Regions from separate parts of the Homo sapiens genome. Here regions 2, 3 and 4 are each reported to be linked to region 1. The links are microRNA targets in miRTarBase. Many come from high-throughput screens and were not tested one by one. Region 1 holds a microRNA gene; each other region holds the end of a gene's coding sequence.

Region 1 (4,291 bases):
GAGCTCACCCAGCCCCAGCCTCCCAAGTCGGCCACACATCAGCATGTCAGGGGCGAGGCGGGGGTGAATCCTGGGACCCAAGATGGGAAACTGAGGCCAGAGCCATGAGAGGGCTGCCTGAGATGGGCGACCCAGGGCGGCCGGAGCCAAGGGGTTCCACGATCACCTCCAGTGTCCTAATCCTTGCTCTTGCCCCGACACGTCTCAAAGGACCGCACCTCTAAGAGCATCCCCATGTTTAGAGGGGTCACCCATCCTGTCTGCACCCCTCCACTTCCGGGGGACTAACCCCTCCCTACCCTGGCATCCCTGGCTGCAAGTTCCCATATACACAGAATGGTGCCTGACTCCCCTGGTCCCACTCCACTGGGCACCCCCCTCCACATGACGGCCCCCAGTGGGCACAGATGAGACCCTGAAATGTCCTGTATGCCCACACAAGGGGCACACACCCCTAAGTCTCAGAGTCCTCCTTCCTGGGTGTGGGAGCTCCACCCCCTGCTGGGGGAGGGGCCTGGGAATTCAGACTTCTGGAGGTTTAAGAAGGGCTCCGATGCCCAGGGCCCACACTCTGCCGTGACTCGCCGTAGGCCGGGCACACCCTCTCCTCTGGGCCTGGATGCCCCCACAGTAGGAGACCAGATAGGTGGGGGCACACACAGGCCTGGCCACTGCCTCTGCTCCATGCGGAGTGTGGCTGGGCCTTCCTGCTGTGGCTTGAGTCCCGGCCAGCACCGGAAGGCCCAGGCAGGGAAACGGCTGTGCAGTGACCCCTCAGTGCCATCCCTTGAGGAGAAGACCCTTGGGGGCATGCTGGGGTGACCCTGTGCACTCTGAGAGGGGACTCTAGATGCCCAGCAGGTGACTAAGGGGGAGTAGGATGCCCCTCTGAGCTGTCCCACCCACCCCACAGAACCATCTATAGGACCGCCTACCGCCGCAGCCCTGGGCTGGCCCCTGCCAGGCCTCGCTACGCGTGCTGCCCCGGCTGGAAGAGGACCAGCGGGCTTCCTGGGGCCTGTGGAGCAGGTGAGGGCTATGTCCCTCGGCGCCCGGTGTTAGGAGGGCGACTGTTCCCCAATCTTCCAGCAACGCTCCTGCTGCTTTTCTTGAACCCCGAGCAAAGCACCACCTTGCCGCAGAGCACCCACTCCCTAGCAGCTGCCCCCACAGGGTGCTGGGGACCCAACTGAGCTGGTGACCAGCCTCCCCCGCCCACAGCAATATGCCAGCCGCCATGCCGGAACGGAGGGAGCTGTGTCCAGCCTGGCCGCTGCCGCTGCCCTGCAGGATGGCGGGGTGACACTTGCCAGTCAGGTGAGGCTGGCTCTACCCTGGGGGGCCCTGGAAGGGTCCTGGGCACCTCCTTGCATGTCCTGGGGTTACTGCTGGCCCATGAGTGGGTGGTTGTGAAGGGAGCTGTGTGGGCAGGACCCCTCCCGCAGGCATGGCCGCCTGACACCCCGTTTCCTGCAGATGTGGATGAATGCAGTGCTAGGAGGGGCGGCTGTCCCCAGCGCTGCGTCAACACCGCCGGCAGTTACTGGTGCCAGTGTTGGGAGGGGCACAGCCTGTCTGCAGACGGTACACTCTGTGTGCCCAAGGGAGGGCCCCCCAGGGTGGCCCCCAACCCGACAGGTAAACAGCCCTGGCTGTGCCTGGCCTGGGGAGGCGGGCAGGCAGTGGACATTGCCGTGTGGCTGTTAGGCATGGTGGGGGGCACTGGAATCTGGGCGGAAGGCGGTGGGGACTCCCTCTCCAGGGAGGGAGGATGGGGAGGGAGGATAGGTGGGTTCCCGAGAACTGGGGGCAGGTTGCCCGGAGCCTCATATCAGCCAAGAAGGCAGAAGTGCCCCGTCCCGGGGTCCTGTCTGCATCCAGCGCAGCATTCTGGAAGACGCCACGCCTCCGCTGGCGACGGGACATTATTACTTTTGGTACGCGCTGTGACACTTCAAACTCGTACCGTGAGTAATAATGCGCCGTCCACGGCACCGCATCGAAAACGCCGCTGAGACCTCAGCCTTGACCTCCCTCAGCGTGGCCGGGACCCTGAGCCTCTGCGCAGAGCCACCCGCCCCGACGTACTTAGGCGGCATAGCCCTGAGACCTCTGGCCAGCGCCAGGCAGGCAGCGGGGGCGGCAGAGGCCTGGGCCTGAGTCTTCTGGCTCTGCCTCTCCCTGGGGACAGGAGGGAGCCTGGGGGTGTGGGTGGGGAGCCGGCCGGCCGTGACCCAGCGCCTGGCTCTGCCCGCAGGAGTGGACAGTGCAATGAAGGAAGAAGTGCAGAGGCTGCAGTCCAGGGTGGACCTGCTGGAGGAGGTGAGGCATTGGTGGGGGGGGGGGGGGGCAGGCAGTCCAGGGTGGACCTGCTGGAGGAGGTGAGGTGTGGAGGGGCAGGCAGTCCAGGGTGAACCTGCTGGAGGAGGTGAGGCATCGGGGGGGTAGGCAGGCAGTCCAGGGTGGACCTGCTGGAGGAGGTGAGGCGTCGGGGGGGCAGGCAGTCCAGGGTGGACCTGCTGGAGGAGGTGAGGCGTCGGGGGGGCAGGCAGTCCAGGGTGGACCTGCTGGAGGAGATGAGGCGTCGGGGGGGGAGGCAGGCAGTCCAGGGTGGACCTGCTGGAGGAGGTGAGACGTCGGCAGGGGGCAGGTCTTCACAACAGCAGAGGCCCAGGCCCGGGTACAGGCTCCGTAGTCTCCTGGGACATGGTCCCGACCCACGGATGGCTGGGGGTGGTCTGAAAAGGTCCTGGCCCTGGGGAGGTGGCTTCCTCGCTGCTGACTGCCGAGGGGGCCCTGGCCTGGATCCATGCTGGGCAGAAGCAGCTGGACACTGACCAGGACCCCCCAGGGCCGGAGGAACCAAGCTTGACAGCCCCCCAGACAATACACAGAGCCTGGACCCAGACGAGACCTCCCCACCCCCCCATCTTTGTCCCCACCAGGACAAAGAGCTCTTGCCAGTCTTCCCACTGGCCAGTGGTCCAGCTGTCCCCCTAGTTCTCCTGCCAGGGACCCCAAGGCTGGGACCACCCCGCCAGCCTGATGCCCCAGGCACCCACTCTGCGGCAAGCTTTTCTGCCACGGCAGCCCCCTCTAGTGGACACTTGGAGCCCTGCCGCGGAGGCGGGGGCTGGAGGCTTGTGGAGCCCTTCCCAGGGGTCCTCCCTAGACCCCGGTGGAGCAGAGAGGGCGGGGGCCGGCCCAGGGTCACTGCCCTTCTGCACCCACAGAAGCTGCAGCTGGTGCTGGCCCCACTGCACAGCCTGGCCTCGCAGGCACTGGAGCATGGGCTCCCGGACCCCGGCAGCCTCCTGGTGCACTCCTTCCAGCAGCTCGGCCGCATCGACTCCCTGAGCGAGCAGATTTCCTTCCTGGAGGAGCAGCTGGGGTCCTGTGAGTGCCCCCACCCTCCAGAGCCCTCCTCCCGGGTCTGGGCCCAGTGGGCCTAGAGGGGCTACCCAGGCTTGGGGGTCGGGGGCGACCAAAGGCCAAGGGGCCAGTCAGATCTAGCTGGGCGGGGAGGCTGTGGGGAGCAGTGATCTCTGACCTTCGCCTCATCCAACCCTAGGCTCCTGCAAGAAAGACTCGTGACTGCCCAGCGCCCCAGGCTGGACTGAGCCCCTCACGCCGCCCTGCAGCCCCCATGCCCCTGCCCAACATGCTGGGGGTCCAGAAACCACCTCGGGGTGACTGAGCGGAAGGCCAGGCAGGGCCTTCCTCCTCTTCCTCCTCCCCTTCCTCGGGAGGCTCCCCAGACCCTGGCATGGGATGGGCTGGGATCTTCTCTGTGAATCCACCCCTGGCTACCCCCACCCTGGCTACCCCAACGGCATCCCAAGGCCAGGTGGGCCCTCAGCTGAGGGAAGGTACGAGCTCCCTGCTGGAGCCTGGGACCCATGGCACAGGCCAGGCAGCCCGGAGGCTGGGTGGGGCCTCAGTGGGGGCTGCTGCCTGACCCCCAGCACAATAAAAATGAAACGTGAGCTGCTGTGTCAGTGGATGGACTGGGGGCCTGGGAGGAGGGCGCTCACCTCCTGGCCACCCCTCCCAGACCCACTGCTGGGTGCCAGCTGGCAAAGGGGGCCTGGTGGAGCGGGCAGTCGTGGGGTGGGGAGGGGGTCCAAGGCAGAGGGGGTGGGCAGGTGGTTTCTGTGAGGCCACAGAGAGCTTTGTCCTGGGGACATGTTGGCCCCAACCAGAGGCCAAAGAGCAAATCTCTGGCCTCCTTCCCAGTAGCCTGAGGATCCCGGCACACTTGCCCGTTAGGCGACACCCCCACCCATCGATG
Region 2 (4,291 bases), not on the chromosome of region 1:
CCCAGCAGCCCATGCTCCCCCAGTATGGCGGCCGCAAGATTCTCGTCTGTTCTGTGGACAACTGTTACTGTTCTTCCGTGGCCAACCATGGCGGCCACCAGCCCTACCCCCGCTCCGGCCACTTTCCCTGGACAGTGCCCTCGCAGGAGTACTCACACCCGCTCCCGCCCACACCCTCCGTCCCCCAGTCCCTTCCCAGCCTGGCGGTCAGAGACTGGCTTGACGCCTCCCAGCAGCCCGGCCACCAGGATTTCTACAGGGTGTATGGGCAGCCGTCCACCAAACACTACGTGACGAGCTAACGCCACGCAGGCGGCGGGGCGCTGGGGAATCTTCCTCCCCAGCCCCCGGGCTCGGGAGTTATGCATCCAGAGACCTGCCCTTCTACCTTCCTCGCCTCCCCTCTTCCTCATTCCATTGCCCCAGGTCTTTTCCTTTTGGATTTTGTTTTGGTTTTGGCTTTGTTTTTGATTTTTTTTTATTATGAATCTCCTGGACGCAGAGGTGACAGTGGGAGCTGGCCTGGGCCAGGACGGCAGGTGGCCCTGGAGATGGGAAAGTGTCTGTGTCGAGGCGCTGAGCTCTCTCTCTGTTTCTCCTTTTTTCCTCTACTCCTTCCCCTTCACACCCCCGTGGCTGGAAGGAACCTCGGCTTCCCTGAAAGCTTGGGGGTCCCACCCTTCTTACCCCACCCGGGAGGAACGCCCAGGGCCCCGGGCTTGTTTCTCCTCTTGTTTTCCTTTTGGGCAGTTTGATCACTGATCGAGTAAGGAATGACCTTTAGATTGTGCGACTTTTGTTTTTGTTTTTTTAAATTTTTTTAAACCAAGAATGATTTCTCCTGCTTCCTTCTCCTCACCATCTTCCCAGACGGAGTTCAAAGGCCACTTCTCAAGCAGCTTTTGGCACCTTCAGCCTCAGAGTGGAATCTTTTAAAGACAGGACCCCTATGTCCAGGAAAGGGGAAAAGGAACTTTGCCAATGATAGTGACCACAGCAAAAGCAAATAATAATAATATTAATAATAATAAAGAGAAATAAAATAATAAAATAAAAAACAATAGCACAGCCCTTGTTGAGGTCAGCAGGGAGGAGGGGCTGCCCGGAGTTGGGTCCTTGCCTGGATTTTGACACAGCAACTTCCTGTAGTGAGCACTTTGTATGAATCGTGGACTTCCTGTTCTCAAGGCGCAGGTATTTATTCTGTATCTGTCTAGAGCACACACCAAAATCCAACCTTCTAATAAACATGATGGCGCAGTCCCACTCCCTGCCTCGCCTGTTCCCCTATCCCCCCCAGGCCTGGGATCTTCAGGCGTCGGTGTGGGGAGGGGCCCCTGCCCTCCTTGCCTTGATTTTGCTCCCCTGGGTCCAGCTGGTTCCAGGCCTGTGAATGTCAGTTCGTCGGGCACTGACTCCGTCTGCTCTTGGCCTTGGGTTCATTTGACAAATATTTGCCCAGGGCCTCCCAGGCCCAGCCCCATGCCACCTGGGCCCCGGCATCTCTTTGAGGTTCTGCCAATGTGCTCTTAGCTGAGGACGAAGGAGGAACACCTTTCTATGAGTCTTGCAAAGTTTACCTCCTTCAGGCCACAAATATTTGAGTGCACACTACGTGCCAGGCACTGTGCAGGGCTGCAGGCATAGAGACAGAATGTAATCTAGCTGGGCCTTGGACCCCATAGGGAGAGGGGACCACTCAGGTCCATACTTCCTTTGGACTTGGGGCTTTGGCCTTGGGAGGGGTGGAGGTGGGGTGGCAAGATGAAAAAGACATCCTGCCCCCATCCACTTCGGCAGAGCTTCTCAAAGTCTCAAGCATGTCTTGGGAGCTTGTTAAAAGGGCCGATTCCTTGCTGTGGCTCACGCCTGTAATCCTGACATTTTGGGAGGCCAAGGCAAATTGCCTGAGCTCAGGGGTTTGAGACCAGCCTGGGCAACATGTCGGAACCCTGTTTCTACAAAAAATACAAGAATTAGTTGGGCGTGGTGGGGCACACCACACCTGTGGTCCCAGCTACTCTGGGACTGAGGTGGGAGAACTGCTTGAGCCTGGGAGGCAGAGGTTGCAGTAGGTCTAGATCAAGTCACTGCACTCCAGCCTGTGCAACAAAACAACAGAGCAAGACCCTGTCTCAAAAAAAAAAAAAAAAAAAGGGTAAGGGTGCTGATTCCTGAGGCCTAGCTTAGACTCATCGGGAATCTCTGAGAGCCCAGGAATTTGCATTTTTAACTCTATTCTCCCATATCCTGGGTTTAGAGAAGTGCTGCCATTGTGGTGGTCAGGGTCCTCCCTGCTGCTTGTCACAGAGGCCACTGCGGGGAGAGGAAGCTGGGACACCCCCAAGGCCCTTCTCTGGAGAGGGGCCTCACCTTCAAAAAGGCTCCGGTTGTTGCCTGATGCTCTGCACAGAGCTGTAAGTCCGCAGCCCATGCACTTCTGTAATCTGCTGGGTGCCTAGTTATCTTTCTTCTTGTTTGGGCAGAATCCGGGCCTGAATGCCACCCACCCCAGGAAGCCCAGGACAAGGCAGACAGCCTTGTAAAGTCCCATTCCTGCCAGGCGCGGTGGCTCATGCCTGTAATCCCAGCACTTTGGGAGGCTGAGATGGGCGGATCACCTGAGGTCGGGAGTTCGAGACCAGCCTGGTCAACGTGGTGAAATTTCATCTCTATTAAAAATACAAAAATTAGCCGGCATGGTGGTGGGCGCCTGTAGTCCCAGCTACTCAGGAGGCTGAGGCAGGAGAATCGCTTGAACCTGGGAGGCAGAGGTTGCAGTGAGCCGAGATCGTGCCACTGCACTGCAGCCTGGGTGACAGAGCCAGACTCCATCTCAAAAAAAAAAAAAAAAAGTCCCATGCCAGTGGTCCAAGCCTCACTGACCCCTAGCCACCCCTCCCCTCAGAAAAATAAAGGCTTGCCGAGCACGTTGGCTCATGCCTGGAATCCCAGCAGTTTGAAGGTGGATGGATCACTTGAGTTCAGGAGTTCAAAACCAGCCTGGGCCACATGGTGAAACCCCATCTCTACTAAAACGAAAAATTAGCCAGGCGTGGTGCCACGGGCCTGTGGTCCTAGCTACTCTGGAGGCTGAAGTGGGAGGATTGCTTGATTGAGGCTGGGAGGTGGAGGTTGCAGTGAGCTGAGATCTTGCCACTGCACTCCAACCTGGGCAACAGAGCAAGATCCTGTCTCAAAGAAAAAAAAGAAAAATAAAGACTTTGGGGCTGGCCAGACCAAACCATAGCCTTGGTCTTGCTAACTGCCTCCGCCTTCCTGCCCTGAGGGAGTAGAGGATGACTCGGGTGGGGTGGTGGACCCTTGCTTCATTGTTCCCCTCCCCAGTGTGGCAGGGAGCCAGGAGCAGTATGACAACAGCTGGCCTACCCCTTCCCTCCCCGTGCACCTGTTTGGGGCTAAAGGGAGTGGGGAAATGACTGGAGCACAGTGCCCCTCCAGCCCAGGGTGCAGGATGCCTGGGGGCAGGTGCCGGTGGACAGTCACTTCACTCCACTCAAATCTGCTTCTGTCTCACTGTCCCTTTCTCCAGTTCTCAGGAGCCCTGAGACATCCCCCGTGCCAAGAGTTGGGAGCCAAGATAAAAAGCTGCCTAATTTCTTTCCCACTTGGCCTAGTTTTGTTTTGGCTGAGGGGAGAGGCCCTTTCCCCAGGTGCGTCAATCCACTGAGATGTGGAGGGGACATTCTGGTGGGAATGGGATGGGCTTGAGCCCCTCCATGTCCCAGCTTTGAAGCCCACTCCAGACAATGACACGCTCAGGCACACATCTATAGGTGAAGCAGCAGCTGCCCAGAGTTGGCTTGGGGGGGGTTCCCTAGGCAGCCAGGGAAGCAGGGAGACGCTAACCCACCCAGCTGTCCCCAGCCACCCAGCTGTCCCTGGCTTTGTAGGAGCAGCTGTCACCCAGCTCCCAAAAGGGTCGGGGCAGAGGAGGCCCAGAAAGAGCTGGGGCTGCCCCAGGGAACAGGCTTATTCAGAAGTCATCGGAGGGGCCTTCTCTGCCCTGAACTGGTGGCCCCTTGGAGGGCTGGCTGCAGCCACAGGTGCCCCAGTGCCCAGCCCTCCCCTCCTGCCTTCCCCCAAAGGCCATCACGCCTCCCCTTTCCGGGAAGGGTTGGGGATCTGACCACGTCTCCCTACCCCACAGACTGGGGCCGACAGCTCCTGTGGCCCAGATGTGCTGAGCCCGCAGCGAGGCCACCGCGAGGGAGTGGGTGGGGGTGGTTTCCTCTGCTGCCTGCCGGCCCCAGCTCTTTCATGTTGCCGC
Region 3 (4,291 bases), not on the chromosome of region 1:
GCCGAGGCAGGCGGATCACTTGAGGTCAGGAGTTCGAGATCAGCCTGGCCAACATGGTGAAACCCTGCCTCTACTGAAAATATTAAAAAAAAAAAAATTAGCTGGGCGTGGTGGCACATGCCTGTAATCTCAGCTACTCAGGAGGCTGAGACAGGAGAATCGCTTGAACCTGGGAGGCGGAGGTTGCCGTGAGCAAAGATCGCTCCATTGCACTCCAGCCTGGGCAGCAAGAGCGAGACTCTGTCTCAAAAAAGAAAAAAGAAAAGAAAAGAAAAGAAAATCAGCTCAGAGAGTTAATGGGTTGTTAATGTTTTCTTTATAGATAAAGTACAGCACTAATCCTAATCCAATAAATGATAGTGAAACAAACAAAAAATTTTTTTACAATGACATCCCTCTCTCAATAATTATACAGACTGTGAGTTCCTGCTTTTTATCTTATAGAGTTTACAAATTTGAGCTAAAGTTTGTCAAGTACTAAGAGAATCTTGACAAAGCAAGCTAAAACTGTCGATGCCTGTTTCTCAGATTTTGCTGAACACTGCATACTTTATTTTTGAGCTGTGAGGAAACATTCTTGTAATCTGACTAAAAACCCCTTTCCTTTCAGAGCAAAATGGAGCCATCTACCTTCCAACACCAGATCGATGATTGCAGATCCCTCTTTTCCAGTTCTCCTTCCTCTAGGAGCCATGTTATCCTCTGTCCCCCATAGAGTCAAGCCTAGTGCTTGAAGGTCCTGACGACACCCACAACATACATGAGAGTAATGGGATTGAGCATTTATGGCAGCAACAGAGGAGCCACAAAATGTTCTTTGTTCTTTGGCTCCAAAAAGACTGTCAGCTTTCAGTCTCTTTTGATGGACTGTTTTATCAGAGTTGACTTTAAATACAGCTTGTCTCATGACACAACGCTTCCCTACATTCTATTTGTCAATGATGATTTGCAACTAGTTGGAGATTCTCAGAGCAGGAAGGAATCTTTTCAACCAGAGCAGGAACTGTCTTCTGCAATGCCTTGGACTTGAGCCTCCAGCCTCCACTTGAACACCATGTGAAGGGAACCTCAGTACTTCATAAAATGGCCTTTCTCATTCATCTTTCATGGGAACATTTATTGTACAAGCGCTTTGAATATCATGGGCACCATGACTGTGACCCTACAGGTAGGATTGGATCACTCCATGAGAGTAGCCGGCAGGTTTCTACAATGGCCTGGGAATGGACTGATTATTTTTATACATTTTCTGGCCTGAGAGAAAGCCAAAGTCCCCTGCTGTTCACAGCAACCCTGCCTGGGAGCTTGGAATCTTGGTAATCTGCCCGGTTGGATCTATGGAGGTAGTCTCACCCTTTTTGTCTTTTGTGGGAAATTAAGAGAAATAATTATCAGACATATCATCACCTCCAGTGGAACTACAGAGACCTGGACCCAGCTGCACTATTTTAATGTAAAAATAACAGTATGGCCAGGTGCAGTGGCTCACGCCTGTAATCCCATCACTTTGAGCAGCCAAGGCGGGCGGATCACGAGGTCAGGAGATTAAGACCATCCTGGCCAATATGGTGAAACCCTGTCTCTACTAAAATACAAAAAATTAGCTGGGCATGGTGTTGCGTGCCTGTAGTCCCAGCTACTTGGGAGGCTGAGACAGGGGAATTGCTTGAACCCGGGAGGCAGAGATTGCAGTGAGCCGAGATCACGCCACTGCACTCCAGCCTGGCGACAGAGTGAGACTCTATCTCAAAATAATAATAATAATAATAATAATAATAATAATAATAATAACAGTATATTTGGTGTCAGGAGAGGGCTCAATTCTCATTTCTGCCTTTCCTGTGCTGGCTCATGGTAGCTGGGCATGACTTGCCTTCCTACATAGGTTGTCTTCATACATATGCACTGGGAATCAATAAAAGCCCATGGTGAGAATGAACATCCCCTTAATGTTCCTTACTATCCCCAACCCCTGAGGCCTCACCTACTGCCCTGCCATGTGGAGCTACTTGCCCTGGGGCTGCCAGTCACACATTCCTCGGTCCTACTTCTCTGACCCCGTTTGACTCTGCACCTGAGCCCTAATGCTTACTTCAGTGACCTGAACTTTGACAAGTGGCTTTTGTCCTGCACCTCAGGTTTGACCTCTGCTCTCCCTTGACCTTGACTGTGACATTTGACCTTTGGCTTTAATCATTACAGCCTCAGATAAAGGTACCTTCAGCCCGGGCACAGTGGCTCACGCCTGTAATCCTAGCACTTTGGGAGGCTGAGGCAGGCGGATTCCCTGAGCTCAGGAGTTCAAGACCAGCCTGGGCAACACGGTGAAACCCTGTCTCTACTAAAATACAAATAATTAGCTGGGCATGGTGGCATGTGCCTATAGTCCCAGCTACTTGGGAGGCTAAGGCAGGAGAATCACTTGAATCTATAAGGCAGAGGTGGCAGTGAGCCGAGATCACACCACTGCACTCCAGCCTGGGCAACGGAGCAAGACTCTGTCTCCAAAAAAAAAAAGAAAGATACCCTCAGTGTGCCAGGCCTCTAAGAGCTCACCTGCCAGGCTTCCTCCTTGCTCCACTGTCCCATGTAATTCCATATATGAAGCTACCACTGTACATCTCTCTTTTCCGGTGCCTGTTGAGTTGCATAGAAGCACAGTTGTGTTTATTTTGTTTTTAGGGTTGCCATGGGCAATTTCCGTGCCACTTTTAAGCAGTGTTGCACTGTGAAGAGAATGTAGGCAAGTTTATTTCTGGAATGGTTTCTTCTTACAATCAGAATAGTTAGGATGTAATATATTTTTGGGTGGGCATTTAAAGTGAAAAGGTACATATTTACATAGACACAGGTGATAATGTATCTATGTAAATGCCTTTTGATTCTGCAACTGCAGGATACTCTCATCAAAGACACAGATAAAAAGCCTCTGTGTTTCCAAGGCCTTGCCCTACACCTAACACATAATATGTCCAAATGGATGAAGAGGAGGCAAGGACAAGGATGTGATGACAAAACATTCTGTTATGCACTTGTAGCATTTATGTTTCTTCCTGGGGGATTTTATAATACTAAAAGAATCATAATATAAAGAGATGATTAAAAAAAAAATACTGCCGGGCACGGTGGCTCATGCCTGTAATCCCAGCATTTTGGGAGGCCGAGGTGGGCAGATCACCTGAGGTCGGGAGTTCGAGACCAGCCTGACCAACATGGAGAAACCCTGTCTCTACCAAACATACAAAATTAGCCGGGGATGGTGGCGCATGCCTATAATCCCAGCTACTCGGGAGTCTGAGGCAGAAGAACCGCTTGAACCCGGGAGGCAGAGGTTGTGGTGAGCCGAGATCGCGCCATCGCACTCTAGCCTGGGCAACAAGAGTGAAACTCCATCTCAAAAAAATAAAAATAAAATAAGTAAGTAATACCTAAAATTCTGCAACCTTCATTTTACTATAGATGGTTGAAGATTATATTACTTCTTAATTGTTTTAGCCTTGTTATTGCTTCATTACTTCATGGTTGTTGAGTACAGATGCTCAGTAATCATAACCTATGAAATATTTGACACCATGATCTAAACATTAAAAACAAATAACTGTGCTATTGCCACAGCTATGTTTTGGCTTTGAATTTTCTTTACTGAATATTTTGGATCAAGAACACTAGATGAGAAACCTGTTCAACTCTGTTCTTTTTTTTTTTTTTAACTCCACTGTATTTATTACCTGTTTTTGTTTTTTTTGTTTGTTTGTTTTTGATGTGCATATAGACCAAGATGTGGTAAATTTAAATGGCAGATGTTTTTGATGTGGTACATTTAAGGGAGAGAAAGCAGTTTAAAGAGCAGGGTGAAAAATCCAACAAGACTCCATCGAGAGTTTCTGAGCTCTCCCATCAGGGGCCAGTCCTCCTTTCCTCTCTCCTCTTACTCCCATGATTTCCAAGTTGTGATCCTTTCCTTATTTCTGAGGAATGACTTGGTTTCTCCTCTTCTTTTTTTGGCCTGAGAGAAGATGTTTTTGCACTTGTAGCTATGAGGAACAGATTGTCCACTAGGGAGGCCAGCTGATCATTTTCTGCCAGAGTCACACAGAGCAGTCACACCTTATTTTGAAAACCACTGTCTGGGGTCTTTGTCCTCACATATGCAGGTCTAGTGTCCCCACAAAGTGATCAGATGGATATATAAAGTGGAGTGCCAATGTATTAATTTACTGTGAGAAACACAATTGCTAAGTGGGTCAGATATCTGTCTCAGCTGGTCAGTACACCTTCCAGCAGGAAAATC
Region 4 (4,291 bases), not on the chromosome of region 1:
GAGCGTGTCCAGGTGGAGGGAGGCATGGAGAGCAGTCTGCTCCCCTACGTCTCCAACATCCTGAGCCCCGCGGGCCAGATCTTCATGTGCCCCCTGTGCAACAAGGTCTTCCCCAGCCCCCACATCCTGCAGATCCACCTGAGCACGCACTTCCGCGAGCAGGACGGCATCCGCAGCAAGCCCGCCGCCGATGTCAACGTGCCCACGTGCTCGCTGTGTGGGAAGACTTTCTCTTGCATGTACACCCTCAAGCGCCACGAGAGGACTCACTCGGGGGAGAAGCCCTACACATGCACCCAGTGCGGCAAGAGCTTCCAGTACTCGCACAACCTGAGCCGCCATGCCGTGGTGCACACCCGCGAGAAGCCGCACGCCTGCAAGTGGTGCGAGCGCAGGTTCACGCAGTCCGGGGACCTGTACAGACACATTCGCAAGTTCCACTGTGAGTTGGTGAACTCCTTGTCGGTCAAAAGCGAAGCACTGAGCTTGCCTACTGTCAGAGACTGGACCTTAGAAGATAGCTCTCAAGAACTTTGGAAATAATTTTATATATATATAAATAATATATATATATATACATATATATAAATAGATCTCTATATAGTTGTGGTACGGTCTAAAAGCAGTCTTGTTTCCTGGAAATAAAAAGTTGGGATATTAACTTGTTTTTGCACTTTAGAATAGCATGAGAATCTCACTAATTTAGCATTCTGATAAAAGAAACTTTAGAGCAAGTCAGAATAGAGAGGTGTTTTTCCTTTGAGGGGATAGGGGAAGTAAGCCAATAAGAACCTTTTAAACAAATCGTCCTGTCACAAAATGCTTTCATATGGCTTAATTTTGTCAACACTGCATTGTCTTTTGAGCTCTTTTTTCCCCCCCAACAAAGTTTTTTTGTTTTTTGTTTTTTTTTTTAAGTAGAAATTCCCTCCAGTTTTATTAGCCTCTTTATATGTCTCAAATTGCATGAATTTTTTCTGGCTGTTGGAAACCTGAATGCTTTTAGACCCAAATGGAAAATTTCTGAAATGCTGGATTATCTATTTTTAAACAAGCAGTTGACTTAAAACTTTCTGTGGCAACTTCTGGTTTTCTGACAGTTCCCAGTGAGAGAAATGCTGAAAGTACACTGGGATCACTGGGACACTGTCTTATGAAGGTTTGCTTGGGATGAAAAAGGATATTGCAGCTTCAGCAGTGTTGAACTGTGTGTTTAAAAATGTGAATTACTGTTATTGTATACTGTAATTGATTACATGGGCTGGGGGGGTGTCAAAGAACTTGACAGGTTGTGTTGATGCTCTTAGTTGAGTCTTGAAAAGTAAATATTAACGCTACAGAAATGCATGAGTTTCAATATATTTTTTGTCTTTGTTTGCATTGTATAACTTTAACGAGTGAGTTTAAAATTATTTAATTTCCTTAGAAAAATAACACCATTTGGAAAAAAAAACTGGTGTTATGAAGAACGTAAATGCACTGTTTTTATTTTTATTTTATATAATTTAAATTGACTTTCCCACTGTCTTTAAGTTGAAACTGTTAAGCTGAATAAAAACTTAAGCTGCAAATTGATAACTTCGCTACATAACAAGGAAAATATAAATGTTTACAAACAGCTTAAAGATTTGCATGTGCAGTGTGCATTTATAACAAACTTCTAATTGCACAAAACCCATGCCAGCTCAGAGTTTAGGTGTACACATTTACCCAGTTGAGCGTTCTTAGAATAACTACTGCACAAGTTGACAATAGGTCGTTCTCTCTTTTTTTTTGTTTGCTCCCTTTTTCTTTTTCTCCCCTTCCTCCTTACCCTCCCTCCCTTACTCTCCCCCCCCACCACCACCCTCCACCCCCAACTCATGAAAAGATTCTATGGACTGAAAAAGCCCCAGGCTGAAAGGACTGGACTGCCTTGATTGACATGGGGAAGGGGGTTAGTAGACTATGTGGATTGCGGCAGCAGAGGCTGCAGCCTAACGTGTGGTTTTAATGACCAGCACGCAAGGCAAAAGCATTTTGCACAGTGTTTGTTTTCCTGTCTTGCACTTACAAATAAGGTCTATGGGAGTAGCATGGAAAACGTTTGCTGTTTTTCCCTTTTTTTTTTAATTGCTTTTGTTTAAAATTTGATCGCCTTAACTACTGTAAACATAGCCTATTTTTGTGCTTAAGATACTGAATGGAAAACTCCATTGTGTGTTGCTGGACTGTTTTGGAAATATTTGGTTAAATGTGTGTTAATTTGGCTGTAATGGCATTTAAAGCAAACAAACAAACAAAAAAAGCTGTGAAAATGGCCTTGGAGCATTATCTTTAGTTACTTGAAGAGTTTCTAGTTTTTTTAAAATACAGTTTATGTTAAAATAATTTTTATTAATTTAGAGAAGACAATCAATGTCTGTGAGAAAACGGACTTTCTTTTGGATTTTCTTTTTGTGGTCATTGTGAGTGATTGCTTTTTCCTTTTCTTAGTTTCACATTCTTCCTTTGTTCTAAAACTTAGACTGACATCTAGCTTTGACAATCATAGTATGTTTTATTTTCCTGAGGGGGAATAACTTATAATGCTGTTTAGTTTTGTACTATTGGTGTGTTGGTGAATTTTTAAACTGTGTGCTAACTGCAATAAATTATATGAACTGAGAATTTCTTGTGTGTATTTTTTATTGTGATTATGTAGTGTATAGATTCTAAATATGTATCATACCTGGCATCTTTAATATCAATTCTATTCGGAGTTTATGAAATTATTAGAATGCCTTAAATCACTCGAGTGGAAAATGTGTAAGCATTCTAGTCACTTAAGAAGATACTAAATGCACATTTAAAAAATGCGACCCATTTTCACAATCTACATCAAGAATGTTGAGGTAATTCCCTAGAAACTCATGAATCATGAAACTACGTGGCAGCATAGGTTGTTAAAAATACACTGTACAACTACTAATCCATATACCGTAAGTCACTTTTCGTGTGTAATTTTATCCTAAGTTGATCGGTCAAATCTATTCTCCTGTGTTCTGGTTTAAGTGGAAAATTGAAGGAGACCGGATGTTTTAATTTGGAAGACTGCTTGGCTAATGACTGGAATTCTAGGCAATTGAATTAGCAGGCATGCAATTGTTCACGATTAGCTATATACATCCTTTTTGTTGCTGGGAGAACTCGAAAGTTTCTAGGTTTTAATTCTCAAGTTTTAATTTAAACATGTAATTAAATACATGGACCATTAAAAGAACTCTGTTCCCTACTTTTTATGATTGTCCCAACTTCATGCTTATCTAGTTGGGTACATGTCAGGGTGAGAAACATTGCTGGTTGACCTGGGTAGGGAATTGACAGAACACTCACACATGCGGATGATACTGTAGAGGAATTGTCACAAACAACCCTAAGCTCAAGCAGTCAGGTGCAGGCATGGAGAGGTTTTGTAAACCGTGCTTGTCTCTAACTTCCAACCTTAAATAGAAATATGACTATGAAATTTTACATTATTACTGTCAAACTATGTTTATATTCAGTGGCCTATAGTAAGGTCAATATTTTTAACCTACAGAAGTGGGATATAAGGTCTGAAGTTTGAAAATGGACCATTTACCAACTACCTGGTGGCTTTGGATAGGAAGCCACAGGGATTTTGTCATGAAGTATAATAACATAATTTGGAATCCTAATTTCCATCCCCCTGCCTTTTTTTTTTTTTTTCTAAAACAATTTTTAAAGTATGTAACTCATCCTTGGTTTTAACCAGCCAAATACTGTTTCACATGAAAGGGGAATGTACATTTGACCCCCATAGAATAATTTCTTGAGCAGTTACAAGCTTACAAAAAGGGGAGGGAGGGGGACTTTTTATTTTCAGTTCCTATAGTAACTGGTCAGAGTATCTCAAAGCTTCCTGAAGATGCTGAGCGTTTACTTGAATTTAGTTCTGTGGACTAACATCTAATTTTAAGTAAGGAACATTATCTTAACAATCTTAACTGGATATACTTATAAAAATAATATTTTGACATGATTTGGAAGAAGTAACTTCTTAAAACATTCTTTGCAAAACTAGAACAGAATATTAATTACACAAACTGCCACATTTGGTAAGTGAAATGAAGGAATCATTTATTTGCCACATTTAAAAAAGGAAATTAATTTGTCATGTGATCATGTTGGAAACCATTAAAACTGATCCCTCCTTTGACATCTGGCTGATACATAGTATATTTTAAATATGTAGTTTTATTTACTTTAGAAAACTTCTTTTTCCTTTAGATAATCAATTATGCACTGGATT

What was found. Region 1 holds the annotated microRNA hsa-miR-126-5p (CAUUAUUACUUUUGGUACGCG, at 1,924-1,944, shown strand). A microRNA usually pairs through its seed, bases 2 to 8, with sites in the 3' UTR of a target mRNA and lowers its output. Matches are read on the target gene's strand: a 7mer-m8 pairs with bases 2 to 8, a 7mer-A1 pairs with bases 2 to 7 and ends in A, and an 8mer does both.
Region 2: the mRNA of TRIM8 is a reported target of hsa-miR-126-5p. Seed matches in the 3' UTR shown: 7mer-A1 at 1,006-1,012, 8mer at 1,008-1,015, 8mer at 1,011-1,018, 8mer at 1,020-1,027, 8mer at 1,023-1,030 and 7mer-A1 at 1,042-1,048.
Region 3: miRTarBase lists MR1 as a target of hsa-miR-126-5p. Seed matches in the 3' UTR shown: 7mer-A1 at 1,751-1,757, 8mer at 1,753-1,760, 8mer at 1,756-1,763, 8mer at 1,759-1,766, 8mer at 1,762-1,769, 8mer at 1,765-1,772 and 6 more.
Region 4: miRTarBase lists ZBTB18 as a target of hsa-miR-126-5p. Seed matches in the 3' UTR shown: 7mer-A1 at 559-565.

The regions. Positions count from the first base shown.
Region 1 is chr9:136,668,693-136,672,983 of GRCh38, forward strand. It overlaps MIR126 (microRNA 126), which reads left to right and starts at 1,910; the gene lies at 1,910-1,994. It overlaps EGFL7 (EGF like domain multiple 7), which reads left to right. Exons shown (of 11, transcript NM_016215.5): 6 at 914-1,029; 7 at 1,222-1,317; 8 at 1,477-1,638; 9 at 2,258-2,322; 10 at 3,234-3,396; 11 at 3,572-3,986. The coding sequence ends at 3,594. RefSeq lists enhancers at 741-1,242, 1,243-1,742.
Region 2 is chr10:102,657,053-102,661,343 of GRCh38, forward strand. TRIM8 (tripartite motif containing 8) reads left to right here. Exons shown (of 6, transcript NM_030912.3): 6 at 1-1,266. The coding sequence ends at 302. Among named protein-coding and RNA genes, the nearest start is that of TRIM8, 15 kb to the left of the region's middle. RefSeq lists a silencer at 4,216-4,275.
Region 3 is chr1:181,054,615-181,058,905 of GRCh38, forward strand. MR1 (major histocompatibility complex, class I-related) reads left to right here. Exons shown (of 6, transcript NM_001385161.1): 6 at 611-4,291. The coding sequence ends at 651. Among named protein-coding and RNA genes, the nearest start is that of MR1, 23 kb to the left of the region's middle.
Region 4 is chr1:244,054,828-244,059,118 of GRCh38, forward strand. ZBTB18 (zinc finger and BTB domain containing 18) reads left to right here. Exons shown (of 2, transcript NM_205768.3): 2 at 1-2,649. The coding sequence ends at 543. Among named protein-coding and RNA genes, the nearest start is that of ZBTB18, 5.7 kb to the left of the region's middle.